Linked DNA regions of Homo sapiens: all the other regions are reported to be linked to region 1. The links are microRNA targets in miRTarBase. Many come from high-throughput screens and were not tested one by one. Region 1 holds a microRNA gene; each other region holds the end of a gene's coding sequence.
The links. Region 1 holds the annotated microRNA hsa-miR-331-3p (GCCCCUGGGCCUAUCCUAGAA, at 2,228-2,248, shown strand). A microRNA usually pairs through its seed, bases 2 to 8, with sites in the 3' UTR of a target mRNA and lowers its output. Matches are read on the target gene's strand: a 7mer-m8 pairs with bases 2 to 8, a 7mer-A1 pairs with bases 2 to 7 and ends in A, and an 8mer does both.

Region 2: miRTarBase lists SF3B2 as a target of hsa-miR-331-3p. The part of its 3' UTR that is shown has no 7-base or 8-base seed match.
Region 3: miRTarBase lists TMEM254 as a target of hsa-miR-331-3p. The part of its 3' UTR that is shown has no 7-base or 8-base seed match.
Region 4: miRTarBase lists HNRNPH1 as a target of hsa-miR-331-3p. The part of its 3' UTR that is shown has no 7-base or 8-base seed match.

Annotation. Positions count from the first base shown.
Region 1 is chr12:95,306,253-95,309,919 of GRCh38, forward strand. It overlaps MIR331 (microRNA 331), which reads left to right and starts at 2,168; the gene lies at 2,168-2,261.
Region 2 is chr11:66,068,557-66,071,556 of GRCh38, forward strand. It overlaps SF3B2 (splicing factor 3b subunit 2), which reads left to right. Exons shown (of 22, transcript NM_006842.3): 22 at 118-752. The coding sequence ends at 189. PACS1 (phosphofurin acidic cluster sorting protein 1) reads left to right here and starts at 1,716. Exons shown (of 24, transcript NM_018026.4): 1 at 1,716-2,286. The coding sequence starts at 1,931. RefSeq lists silencers at 1,276-1,895, 1,906-1,955, 2,106-2,235, 2,246-2,395, 2,456-2,660.
Region 3 is chr10:80,090,678-80,093,677 of GRCh38, reverse strand. It overlaps TMEM254 (transmembrane protein 254), which reads right to left. Exons shown (of 4, transcript NM_025125.4): 4 at 1,127-2,881. The coding sequence ends at 2,761. Among named protein-coding and RNA genes, the nearest start is that of TMEM254-AS1, 13 kb to the right of the region's middle.
Region 4 is chr5:179,612,866-179,615,865 of GRCh38, forward strand. HNRNPH1 (heterogeneous nuclear ribonucleoprotein H1) reads right to left here. Exons shown (of 14, transcript NM_001257293.2): 13 at 2,681-2,730; 14 at 1,313-2,094. The coding sequence ends at 2,681. The region is part of intron 4 of LOC128966623 (a long non-coding RNA gene); the gene reads left to right. Among named protein-coding and RNA genes, the nearest start is that of HNRNPH1, 9.3 kb to the right of the region's middle. RefSeq lists an enhancer at 963-1,022.

The sequences.
Region 1 (3,667 bases):
TAAATTGTAATTTAATATTTAATAATTAAGCAGGATCACTTTTCTCTCTTGAATGAAAAATAAAATTTGCACACTATAATATTTACAAGTAAAAGTCAAATCTGTATAGAAATGGATATCCTAGCATCAAACAACTTATTTTTAGCAACATGCTGATTATTTTAGTAACCATATATTGACTCATGTTTTCATTACAAAGTAACTGTCAAATCAGTCTGTTTATTTTATGACCATGCCTCATAGTCGGCATTCAGTTATCCATGCTAATGGAAGGGATCTGTGGTATAATAATCATAAAAGATAAGTGGTCCAGGCTGGGCGCGGTGGCTCACGCCTGTAATCCCAGCACTTTGGGAGGCCGAGGCAGGTGGATCACGAGGTCAGGAGTTCGAGACCAGCCTGACCAACATGGTGAAACCCCGTCTCTACTAAAAATACAAAAATTAGCCGGGCGTGGTGGTGGTACCTGCCTATAATTCTAGCTACTCAGTAGGCTGAGGCAGGAGAATCACTTGAACCCGGGAGGCGGAGGTTACAGTGAGCCGAGATTGCGCCATTGCACTCCAGCCTGGGTGACAGAGTAAGACTTCATCTCAAAAAAAAAAAAAAAAGATAGGTGGTCCAAACCAGTTTCTTGAGTTGAGACTGCCATTATAGAAGAGATAGTCAAGATACCAAAGCCAGGTCAGTGATAAAAGAAGAAAACTTCTGAGTGTAGTTGTGAGAGGAAAGTGATTCTATTCAGTGTAATTGCTGTAAACCAAAAAGAGGATTAATTGATTCAAGGATTCACACATGTAAAAGTTTAGCATGAATAAGGAGGAACTGATTTTATAGATATTCTAAAATGTGTGATAAGCTAGGACGTAGTGGCTCACACCTACAATCCTAGCACTTTGAGAGGCTGAGGCAGGAGGATCTCTTGAGGCCAGGAGTTCAAGACCAGCTTAGGCAAGAAACAGCAAGACTTGGTCTCTACAGAAAAACTTAAAAATTAGCTGGATGTGGTGGCACACACCTGTAGTCCCAGCTGCTCAGTAGGCTGAGGCAGGAGGATCACTTGAGCCCAGGAGGCCACAGCTGCAGTGAGCCATGATTGCACCACTGCACTCCAGCCTGGGCAACAGAACGAGAGACCTTGTCTCAAAAATAAATAAATGAAAATGGGCTGGGCGTGGTGGTTCACACCTGTAATCCCAGCAGTTTGGGAGGCCCAGGTGGGCGGATCACCTGAGGTCGGGAGTTCAAGAACCGCCTGACCAACATGGAGAAACCCCGTCTCTACTAAAAATACAAAATTAGCCGGATATGGTGGTTCATGCCTGTAATCCCAGCTACTCAGGAGGCTGAGGCAGGAGAATCGCTTGAACCTGGGAGTCGGAGGTTTTGGTGAGCCGAGATTGTGCCAATGCACTCCAGCCTGGGCAACAAGAGTGAAACTCTGTCTCAAAAAAAAAAAAAAAAAAAAAAAGAAGGAAAATGAAATGTGTGATAAATTAAAGTGCATATAGTATTTTTTATGGTATATATTTTAATGTATTTTAGCTTGTCAGCAATGAAATTAGTTTTATCTCTATGTATTGAACTTCATTTAGCAACATATTATTGCAATAGTACAGTATTTAAGCTGCATATTCTCTTGACTGCATTATCCTTTAAAATCAGTATATTCTGTGAGATATGGCTATGGATATATATATTTCCTCTCCTATTTATATCCTAAGATTTTCTTAAAGGATAATTTTACTGTTTTAGGCTTTATGTTTTTCAGTTTTATATCATTTCCTAAAGCTTAGCTACCTACAAATGAATATTATTGAAGAATTTTTCTAAAACTAAAGCATGTCTTTTATAAGTTTACTCTTTTATAATATCCTAAACAAAGCATATCCTTTTCCCCTTCCTTAAGTAAATTCTTAAGGAAATTAACTTCATTTCTAAATCAAAGTATTTTCTGCACTTTTATTGCACCAATCTGTTACCTTCTGTTCATACCATGACTTAAATAATGCTTACTCAGGCACAGTACTATCAGCTGACAACGTACAGAAGGCTCCAGAAATGTCACTCCCATCCCTTAAAGGTTGGTATATGGTCCTGGTACAGTCGTGGAGGTCCATATGGGTGAAAAGCCCAGAAGTCTACCTGAGCTGAAAGCACTCCCAAGGAGTTTGGTTTTGTTTGGGTTTGTTCTAGGTATGGTCCCAGGGATCCCAGATCAAACCAGGCCCCTGGGCCTATCCTAGAACCAACCTAAGCTCGCGCATCATTCCTGGAACATCAAGAGTGTGAAGACTGAAGATAACCTGAGGCCTACCAGACATCCTATATTCACCAAGATTCACATTTTTTGGTATGTGTGCCTACATTTTAGCAAAAATTGGTTGGTTAATCCTTCTAAAATTAGAGGGATGACATTGGGTAACAAAGTCTTCCCAGCCTTTGGCATTATAGTAATTTCTCGCAATAGAAATTCCATACAGATATTATTGCCAGTGAAGAGAGCTATTCTTGTTTATTATCAGTTCTATATTTTTAGCTGAAGCAACTTAGCCCTAAAAAACCCCAAAATCAACTTCTTCCTCCAAATTAAACTCTCCCCCAAATTTAATGGTTTCTGTTTTCTTAAATGTTTTTCTACTTGACACTGTTATGTCAGTCTCATGTAACTGAATAATTGTTCATAATTTCTGAAGAGCATTTAGTCTTTGCCATCTGGCTTCAGTGCCAAATGATTTTCAATTCTTGTTTTTGGAGACTAATGACTTTTTCCTTAATTTATTATCAAATTTGCCACATTTTAGAGCTCACTTTTAGAAGTTCTGCTATGGTTAATGAAAACAAGCTAGAATGACACAGTAGAAATTGGTTAATACGTCACATTTTACATCACTATTTTGTAGAAGATTTTTAGTAAGTTTCTCTATTTTTATTCCTTGCCACTCTGGATTTTACAAATATTCTGACCTAGTTGATCCATCACATGGTCTCATATCACAACTGTTGCATCGCTATATTCACATAGATGTTTTTCTGTTTAATTTAGAAGACAGTATTTCTGAAAAAGTATGAAACGACCCCAAATCCAAAAGTTATGGTGCACAATGAAAATGTATGCTTTTAATAATGCTGGCTTCTGCAGTAGGTGTAGACCATGTTTCAAATAACCACAGACTAATCAGAAACTCCACCTGTGAAAGGAACTTGAAATTGTGCTATTCCTCCAAGCTTATAACACCAGCAAATTGGGTCAATAGGTTATTCCTTTAAAATAGGACTATGAGCCTACAGAGGCTCACTCTGAAGAACTCAGCCGTGGAGTTAGTTCTGTACTATATCCATCACAACAGACATGCTTCATCCCATAGACTTCTTGACATAGCTTGAAATGAGTGAACCCATCCTTGATTTATATACATATATGTTCTCAGTATTTTGGGAGCCTTTCCACTTTTTTAAACCTTGTTCATTATGAACACTGAAAATAGGAATTTGTGAAGAGTTAAAAAGTTATAGCTTGTTTACGTAGTAAGTTTTTGAAGTCTACATTCAATCCAGACACTTAGTTGAGTGTTAAACTGTGATTTTTAAAAAATATCATTTGAGAATATTCTTTCAGAGGTATTTTCATTTTTACTTTTTGATTAATTGTGTTTTATATATTAGG
Region 2 (3,000 bases), not on the chromosome of region 1:
TCAGATTCAGCGCCTTTCCCACAGACTTCTATGTCTATGTCAGGCTGCCCACCCTTGTTTTGGGGGTCCGGGGGTGGTTCAACCTGTCTTAACCTGTGTCTCTTTCTCCCTATACAGCAAAAAAAACGGAAAGCTCAGCCCCAGGACAGCCGTGGGGGCAGCAAGAAATATAAGGAGTTCAAGTTTTAGGTCCCCTCACACTAGCCCTTTTTTTGGCCCTACGTCTGGATGCCTGGGCTTCACACAAGAACCACCTCTCCCGCAGTTCCCAAGGACTTGTCATTTCATGTTCTTATTTTAGACCTGTTTTGTAAATAAAGCTGTTTCCCAAGGAAAGAGATGAATATTTAACACTCCTGAGCCTCCCTCATCTCCTTTTAGCCCCTTCTTGCAAAAGGACTAAAATAGTCTCTTTCTACAATCACTGGGCTGCCCCAGTAACCACGAACATAAACTGGGATTAGACGGCGCATTTGACTGGTGGTGACGCCAACCCCAGGCTGAAATCTGTGTTTCACCACTGCCCTGCTTTGTAGGAAGGCTTGGGGGAAGTACCTCTAGGTCTGGTTTGACCTTACTACTTTGTCCTTGGGGAGTAAAAATAGCCAGATTAGCGCCCTAGCGCGGCAGAGGAAGTAACAGTGGGCTTGGGAAGTAGGCCAGGGCAGGCCTTCCCAACTGACCTTGTGACCAGAAGTTCAAGTCCTTACCTGTGCGACAACATAGCTCAAAAGCTAAATTGTCTTGAGTCCATATGAACCCTTGGGTTCAAGCAACACTAGTCGCTGGGGTTTGGGATTTGTATGTGGGATGGGGGGACTTACTTTCTCCAGGTTGTAATCTGGTCCTGAGCAGCCTTTCTGACAGACTAGAGCAGGCTGGATCACTGGCTCCCATGGGCATTTGCCAGCCTGTGGGGAGGGTAGTCATGCGCTGCTGTTGTACTACTGTTGGTGTTTAAGTGCACCAGTGGAGGCGCTCACTTGCCGGAGGGTTCAAGATGGTCTCGGGGTTGTGGGGGGCATGATCCAGATAGGACGTGGCAGCTGAGCTAGGCCTTAGGAGGAATGGAATTTTAGAAATTTGGTAAGCAACAAAGCACTGGCACTCTAAAGAGGCATTTGGGGGGTAGGGAAAGAAGAGGAAGGTTGGCTCCAGATGGGCCCCGGGGTAGCTTGAGAATTCACTTATGCGAAGAACCTTCTGGACTCCAGGTCCCTGAGCCCCCGCTTGCCCTCGGGGCGGGAACTTCCCGGATCACAGGCACCCGCGGTGGCAGCGGGCCCCGGGTCTCCGCCGACCTCTCTGTTTGCCGGGGCCGCAGGGCAGGGCTAGGTCGGCAGGCGGAGAGCCGGCTTCCCCGGGCAGACCCCCACCGCTGGGGGCGGGTTCCGCATTGGCTCCGAAGACCCGAGGGGCCGAGGCGCGCTCCCGCGGCGGCCCCCTCCCTGCAGGGACCGAATCCCGGAAAAGCCGGGTTTCCGCTGGCGGGGCCGCGGCCGGCCGTGGGCGGGGAGGGGAGGAGCGGGGGCAGACTGGCAGCGGATTTGAGGGCAGGACCCGTGGGCGCGCGCTGGCCACAGACCACCCCTTCTACTCCGCGGGAGCGAGGGGCGCGCGTGGCTGCACGCAGGGCGCGAGCGCGCCCGGCCCGGCCCCTCCGCGCTGGGTGGGGCCGCGCGGGCCGGGCTCCCCGCCCCCTCCCGGACACGCCCACCCGTGTCGGCCTCGCGAGCCGCAACAGGCAGCGGCGGTCGAGCGCGAGGCCCGCGCGCCCAGAGGCCCCGCGCGTGCGTGCAGCTCGCTGGCTGCTCGCGCTCGGGCAGGCGGGCTGAGGAGGCTGCCGCGCCCCCGCCGCCGCCGCCGCGGGGGAAGCCTGGGAGCCAGATCGGCGTCGCCTCGGCCTCCGTAACCCCCGCCTAGCCGGGCCATGGCGGAACGCGGAGGGGCGGGCGGTGGTCCCGGAGGCGCCGGGGGCGGCAGCGGCCAGCGGGGATCCGGGGTCGCCCAGTCCCCTCAGCAGCCGCCGCCGCAGCAGCAGCAGCAGCAGCCGCCGCAGCAGCCGACGCCCCCCAAGCTGGCCCAGGCCACCTCGTCGTCCTCGTCCACCTCGGCGGCGGCTGCCTCCTCCTCGTCCTCGTCTACCTCCACCTCCATGGCCGTGGCGGTGGCCTCGGGCTCCGCGCCTCCCGGTGGCCCGGGGCCAGGCCGCACCCCCGCCCCGGTGCAGATGAACCTGTACGCCACCTGGGAGGTGGACCGGAGCTCGTCCAGCTGCGTGCCTAGGTGAGCGCGGGAGGGTGCGGCGGGGCGCCGGGGGAGCGGGGTGGCCGCCGGGGCCCAGCCCTCCCCGCCCCAGCGCCCATGGGGTCCCCGCCCTCCATCTCCCCGACTGTCCCGCGGCCCGGCCTGGCTCCAGCCAGGCCTCCCGGGACTCCTGCCACGGGGACCCGCCCTCTCCTGGCAGCCCCACCTTCTGCCTGGGGCCGGGACCACCCTTCTGTCCTCCCCGAGGGACCTTCTGGCCTCGGCCCCGGGCTTTCTCCGATTGGGCTGACCGAATCCGGCCTTCCTGGCAGTCAGTTTCCCTGAGTAAGTCACTCTCCTGCCTCGCCGGCGCCGGGAGCTGTACATACATGGATGTGGTATAGATCTCTTGATATTATTATTTCCCAATAGACTCAGCATGTGCCAAACTCGATTGTCACCTCTTGCAGGTAAAGCTCATATAATCACCCTAGGGGCTTCTCATTAGCCTTCGGCACACATGTTCATTTGAACTTCATATTACACACGTTCTGTCCCAAGCGCTAGGCTCTTAGTTTTGGGGCCCTATTTAATGTGTCCTCAAGTGTATTTTTACCTCCCCTCCCCCACTAAAACTGGTCCCAGAATCTCCCAGCTCTGCAGGGCTGTATGAAATTACTGCCTTGTTCCTAAATTCAATCCATTGCTCTCTGTCTGTTGGAACCATCTGGGGACTTTCCTTCCATTGGCAAA
Region 3 (3,000 bases), not on the chromosome of region 1:
AGTAGAGACGGGGTTTCACCATGTTAGCCAGGATAGTCTCGATCTCCTGACCTCATGATCTGCCCGCCTCGGCCTCCCAAAGTGCTGGGATTACAGGTGTGAGCCACCACACCCGGCTGCATATTGACGTTTTGATCAATCACAGACAGCACATATGACACTGGTTCCATAGGATTGGAACACATTTTTACAGTATCTTTTCTATGTTTAGCTATTTTTTTTGTTTTGCTTGAGACGGAGTCTCACTCTGTTGCCCAGGCTGGAGTGAAATGCTACAATCGCAGCTCACTACAACCTCTGCCTCCTGGGTTCAAGCAATTCTCCTGCCTCCTGCCTCAGCCTCCTGAGTAGCTAGGATTACAGACACCTGCCACCATGACTGGCTAATTTTTGTATTTTTAGTAGAGACGGGGTTTCACCATGTTGGCCAGGCTGGTCTTGAACTCCTTACCTCAGGTGATCTGCCTGCCTCAGCCTCCCAAAATATATATATATATATATATATATATATATATATATATATATTTTTAATCCCATCCTAAAGAAAAGCTAGTACACAAATGCTTACCACTGTGTTACAGTTACCTTCAGTATTCAGTACTACTCTACATGCTGTACAGGTTTGTAGCCTAGGGGCAACAGACTGTATCATATAAACTAGGTGTGTAGTCGGCTCTACCATTTGGTTTGTGAGTACACCCTATGATATCTGCACAACAATGCACTCACCTAATAGTGCATTTCTCAGAAGGCATCCCCATTGTTAAGTGATGCATACCGGACTTCATGCATTTAAAAAAATGCCAGAACACTCCTTACTTAGTGCATAGACTTTATCAAATGTTGAATAAAAACAGAAACAAAAAGGAGACAATCCTACAATGAAAAGGAGACACTCAGGTCCACCCTAGTGATTCCTTGTATGTGGAGGAGGTAAGTGGGACATGGACAGTTCTAAAATATAGTACGTATATACCCGACAACCACAGTGTTTTGCATTTCTTTATCAGTGAAAAACAAACTGATATCTGAAGTGTATAAACAGTTCCCTAGTAGTCTATTTGAGAAAAAGTATCAAATGTGCATCAATATGTTAAAACTGACAAATACAAGAAAAGCATTCAGCTAGAGAAAATTCACAGCATTTTATTCAAGTTAATCAATTTCATTCAATAATCTGCCATATTGTTCCCAGCACCACTATTACTGTTATTATTTCTCTTTGAGGAAGACCAGGTATTAAGAAATCTGGTTTGAATTTCCATGATGCCTAACTCTATGGTTAAAAATCCTTTTCCTTACCAAAAAGGAACTTCTTAATCACCAGAGAAACAGAGGGAAGACTGAGATATGTTTGCAGAAATTTATCTCTACCAGAGACAATTCATAGTTCATAATCTTTCAGGGTTGTGCTTTACTTGGGGGCTCCGTTTTCGGGAGCGGGTTGTTTCCCATAAATGTTTGCTTAATACAAATAATTTGCCCCACTGTACCACAGAAGGGAAATGAGGGCTAGTGTCCCCAGAAAGCAAGCAGGCAGTCCTCCAGGGAAGAAGCCCTAATGGCTCCTAGTGGTGACAGAGTCATTCTGCCTCCCCAGCCTGTGAGCAATAATAAAGTATAACTAAGTGAACAGGAGAGGTAATAACTAGCCAGATAACCCATGGGCTAGAATCTCTAAACAGAAATGCTTGTGTTTTGAATAAATCAGAGCTGGAAAGACACACTTTTGGAGAAGTGATTGAGAATAGAAAGGTATGAAAAAGATAAAGGTTTCTCACCAACGAAACCACAAAAAAGGTGGTACCAGTCAAAGGTAGACTTGGGCTTTTATTTTGGGGTGAGGGTACCCCAAATGGGTTGTGCCATTTTCACATAAAAATTGGAATGATAATGAACAAGTGAAAGTGAAATCAGTTTCCCTCCTTTGTTCAATAAACATGGTTAGAGCACCTGTGTGCAAGATAGTGGGACAGGTGCTGAGGGGAAAGGTAAAGCTGTTTAAGCTGTGGCCCTGAGCTGAAGGAGCAATCTAGCAGTGCCATCAGGCCCTGCACACTGCAGAGCACAGTGTCCCAGGGGCCAGGTGGAGGGAAGGATCACTTCCGGCTGCAGCATCAGGGAAGGCACTCTGCAGTCTCCCCTCCAGGTTCTCAGCGTGCCTCTATGCCTGTGTGACTGCTCAGCCTGCCCCATTCCAGGCACTTGCTCATCTTCCTTATCTTTCTCTGTAGCATGAGAAATGGAAGTTTGAGAGGATAGGATCCTACCTCACAGGTACCTAATAAATGTGTGTGGAATTGACATATAGTGGAAGTGTCACTTTATCTTAGTGCAGCAAGGTGGAAAGAGCTTTGGAAAGGAGAGGAAAGATGGTGGTTGTGAGGGTAAGGTGTTTTCATCAGAAGGCGGGAGCAAGGGTATACAAACCAAAAAGTCAGTTTAGTATGTGGCTTAGCTCAGAGCACACGAGGGTACCAACACAGCCAAAGACTGTAAGAAGGTAGCTGAAGTCCTCTGCCAAATAGGATTGAAAAGCTAAAATCTTTCTCTGTTTCTTTCTTAAGTAACAACTGGTCTATTCAAGCTCAACCAGAGCATATAAGAGAAAAAACTGACTAACGAGGGGGTCTTAAAGAGCTTTGAAGGACAGTTTCTAGAAAGTAGAAAGATCACTGAGTAAATTACTGCACCTCCTCTACCCCACAAAAAAAAGGGTGAGGATGAATGTAAAAGTGTAGAGCAAGCTTTCAGACAACTTCAAGTTTGTTTTTGGCGCTTCCGTTTGTAAGCAATCAAGATGGTGAGAGACGCTATCCCAAAGAAGAAAGTCTGTAGGAACCAGAGTAGCTGAGCCCGACCACTTGTGATGCCTTTATGCCTAAAACAGAAAAAACAAAATTTAAACACGAGATGTTAATCTTACAGTTTCATGGGAGTTATTGTCTTCTATATATATATTTTTTAAATTATACCTTCCACTACTTTCATTGGGTTTAT
Region 4 (3,000 bases), not on the chromosome of region 1:
GGACTTTAACTTGTGCAAGCTCTCAACGTATCAAAGAGTGCAGTTAACTGATAAGGTGCTGAGGCAAGCGATGTCCAGTTCCCAGCAATTTACTCAGAGATGGTACCATCAAGCCCCCATGTTTGTCCGGTAGATAACACCCAGAGCCCCCTCACCTGTCACTTTGTGATGAATTTGAAGCTCCTGCACCTGGAACTGTTTTCCTGTAACCATTTGTCTTTAACTTTTTTGTCTGTTTTTCTTCCCTAAGATGGCTGCAGCTAGAATCCCCCTCCCCTCTCCAAACCAAAGTATAAAAGAAAATCTAGCTCCTTCTTCGAGGCCGAGATACTTTCATGCGGTAGCCGTCTCTCGGTCGCCGGCTAATAAAGGACTCCTGAACTCGTCTCCAAGTGTGGCGTTTCTAACTCGCTCAGGTACACCACTTGGAAGCAGCTTGAATACTTGCTATCATCATGTTGGAGCTTCGAACTACCAAAACGTGATATATTTAAGAGTTCATTTAAACTTCTCATGTTAGCTCTCAATCTCTACCTATCGTTCTACCTTAGGAGACTTACATGGAATTTTGCTTCCAAGTGGAATTGATTTTTAGGAATGACCCAAAAATACAGAAGTTCAAAACTTCCATTTGAAAACCATCTGTGAAGGCTGGGCAATGGCTCCAGCCTATAATCCCAGCACTTTCAGAGGCCGAGGTGGGCAGATCTCATGAGGTCAGGAGTTGGAGACCAGCCTGGCCAACATCGTGAAACCCCGTGTCTACTAAACATACAAAAAAAATTAGCCTGGAGTGGTGGTGGGCGCCTGTAACCCCAACTACTTGGGAGGCTGAGGCAGAAGCCCACAAGGTGGAGGTTGCAGGTGAGCTGAGATCACGCCACTGCAATCCAGCCTGAGACAACAGAATATAACTCTGCCTCAAAAAAAAAAACAAACCTATGAGCTTATGAGCTAGAAGAAACCCACATATTCATCACACCTCCCTTGCCTCCGGCACCTTCCCAGCCAAGCATGAAGGCCTCAAAGACATGCAGGCATGCAGTGAGGGCACTGGCGCCTCCCCCTTTGTTTTGTGCAAGTGCTTAATGAGTTACAGGCAGTTCAGATCAGGTCCTGTGCAGCCAAATGACATACAGCCCTTCCACCAGGGCCCCAAAGACGAGTTTACCTTCAGTTGCACTGGAGGGAAGACTGAAGACATCTACGCAACAGCCTCAACTGCCAAGCCAGAGATGTGGCCCTAGGCCCCAGGTGGGCACAGAGCACCAAGACTCAGTCCACATGACACTGAAGCACAGACAAGACAGAGTGCAGTTTTTAAAAGGAGGATTTATTTGACAAGTTTCACTTAGCGCAATATACCTAAAAGGAAATCACAATACAATGAAAGATTTAAATCAAGGCCTCAGAATTTCATACAAACACCAAGACCAAAATCCTAAGTATTGGTATTGCGTCTCAAATTTTTCCCATTAACTTAAAAAAAAAAAAAGCTTAAACTTACGTGCCTTACAGGTTATTAAATGAAACTAGAATTAACAAACATGCCAAAATGTTTCACTTTTAATAGTAGACACAGCTCCTATATTGTTTTACAAAAAAATAAAAGCATGTCTTTCAACATGCATCCAAAACAGTGTTCAATTTAACGTGGCAAAGGGCAACATTTAACATAATTCAACTGCTTTTACCTAAATACGCTTACTGCTTAAGTACATCCTATAACTAACTTGAGAAAAGCTGGAACTTAAGTTTAACAGTTATAGTTTACTCAGCTTCACTGTTACATCCTAGATGAGTATTGTATTCAAAAATACTGGGCCTTAAGTCTTCATAACAATCCTGATTTCCACTTAGAGTAAGCATAAATCACAAGCTTGTATTGCAGAAACTGTTAAACTGAAGTTTTCTTAAAGAAAAAAAAAAAAAAAAAAAAAAGGTTGACCAAGAGTCAGTGATCAGGATCGATCAATTACATTCCCCATCCACCACTCATACTGGACATGCTAGACAACCCTCCCATTCCGTTCACGCCCATAGATGCACGGCTTCCACTACTGTAGTAGCTGCTGTTCACTGCTCCTTGGTTACCTGCAAAGAGATCAATTTGACAAGTTAGGAGTAATATCAGACTACCAGTCAAATAAAATATAGTATTCCAAGAAAAAGTTTAAAAAGTATACGAGTACAAATGGCTGCTGTCCAAGTGGCGAGACGCATGTTTGGGAAAGGGGAATCCCGACTCCAAACAAGCCTCAATTAACCCCTTTTCTCTGCAGTACCAACTTGCCAGACTCTTGTGCTACCATTTTAACGGATTCTTCAGGATCAACATGAAAAATTAAGTTTAAAGGAAAACTAGTGTTTTTCAAAAATTGCAAAATTACTTCGTATTTTTAAAGCTAAACAAGGCATTTTTAAAAAAAATTTAACATAAACATTCACAATGTGTCCCTCGAATGGCATTTGAGAAAAGGGAGCACAGGGGAAGTCTCTTGCTTTTCCTATTCATGGTGGGCAGGAAGTGAGACAACCAAGCTGGACTAAAGGCAACTCACTGTGCCCAAATGGCAGCCTCCATGGAGTTAAGTCAGAGCCATTGACTGCTATAGAAAGCATTATTACAACATATCAGTATTTGCTATTGGGAATTTATATTTTTTGAGAAAATATTTACCTATGCAATGTTTGATTGAAAATCACTGGAGTTTTCCTGTAAAACTTGGTCTGCAAAAGGATTTTGTAGGGTAAGACTATAATACCAAAATCACCATTCTTTAGACCAATTGAAAAAAAATAAATAAAACCAATCCTAGGTTAACTGACTAATAAATACGATCCTGAACCCAACCACCATTCTACTATTTCAAATTCTCCCTCTGTCTAAAACTGACTTAATGCTAACCAAAAGACAAAAAAGTGAACAACTTTATTTAATGTTTTAATACATGGAGGCAGATATTTTCTGGCTCGACAGTATTCCAAAGCTGCAATGAC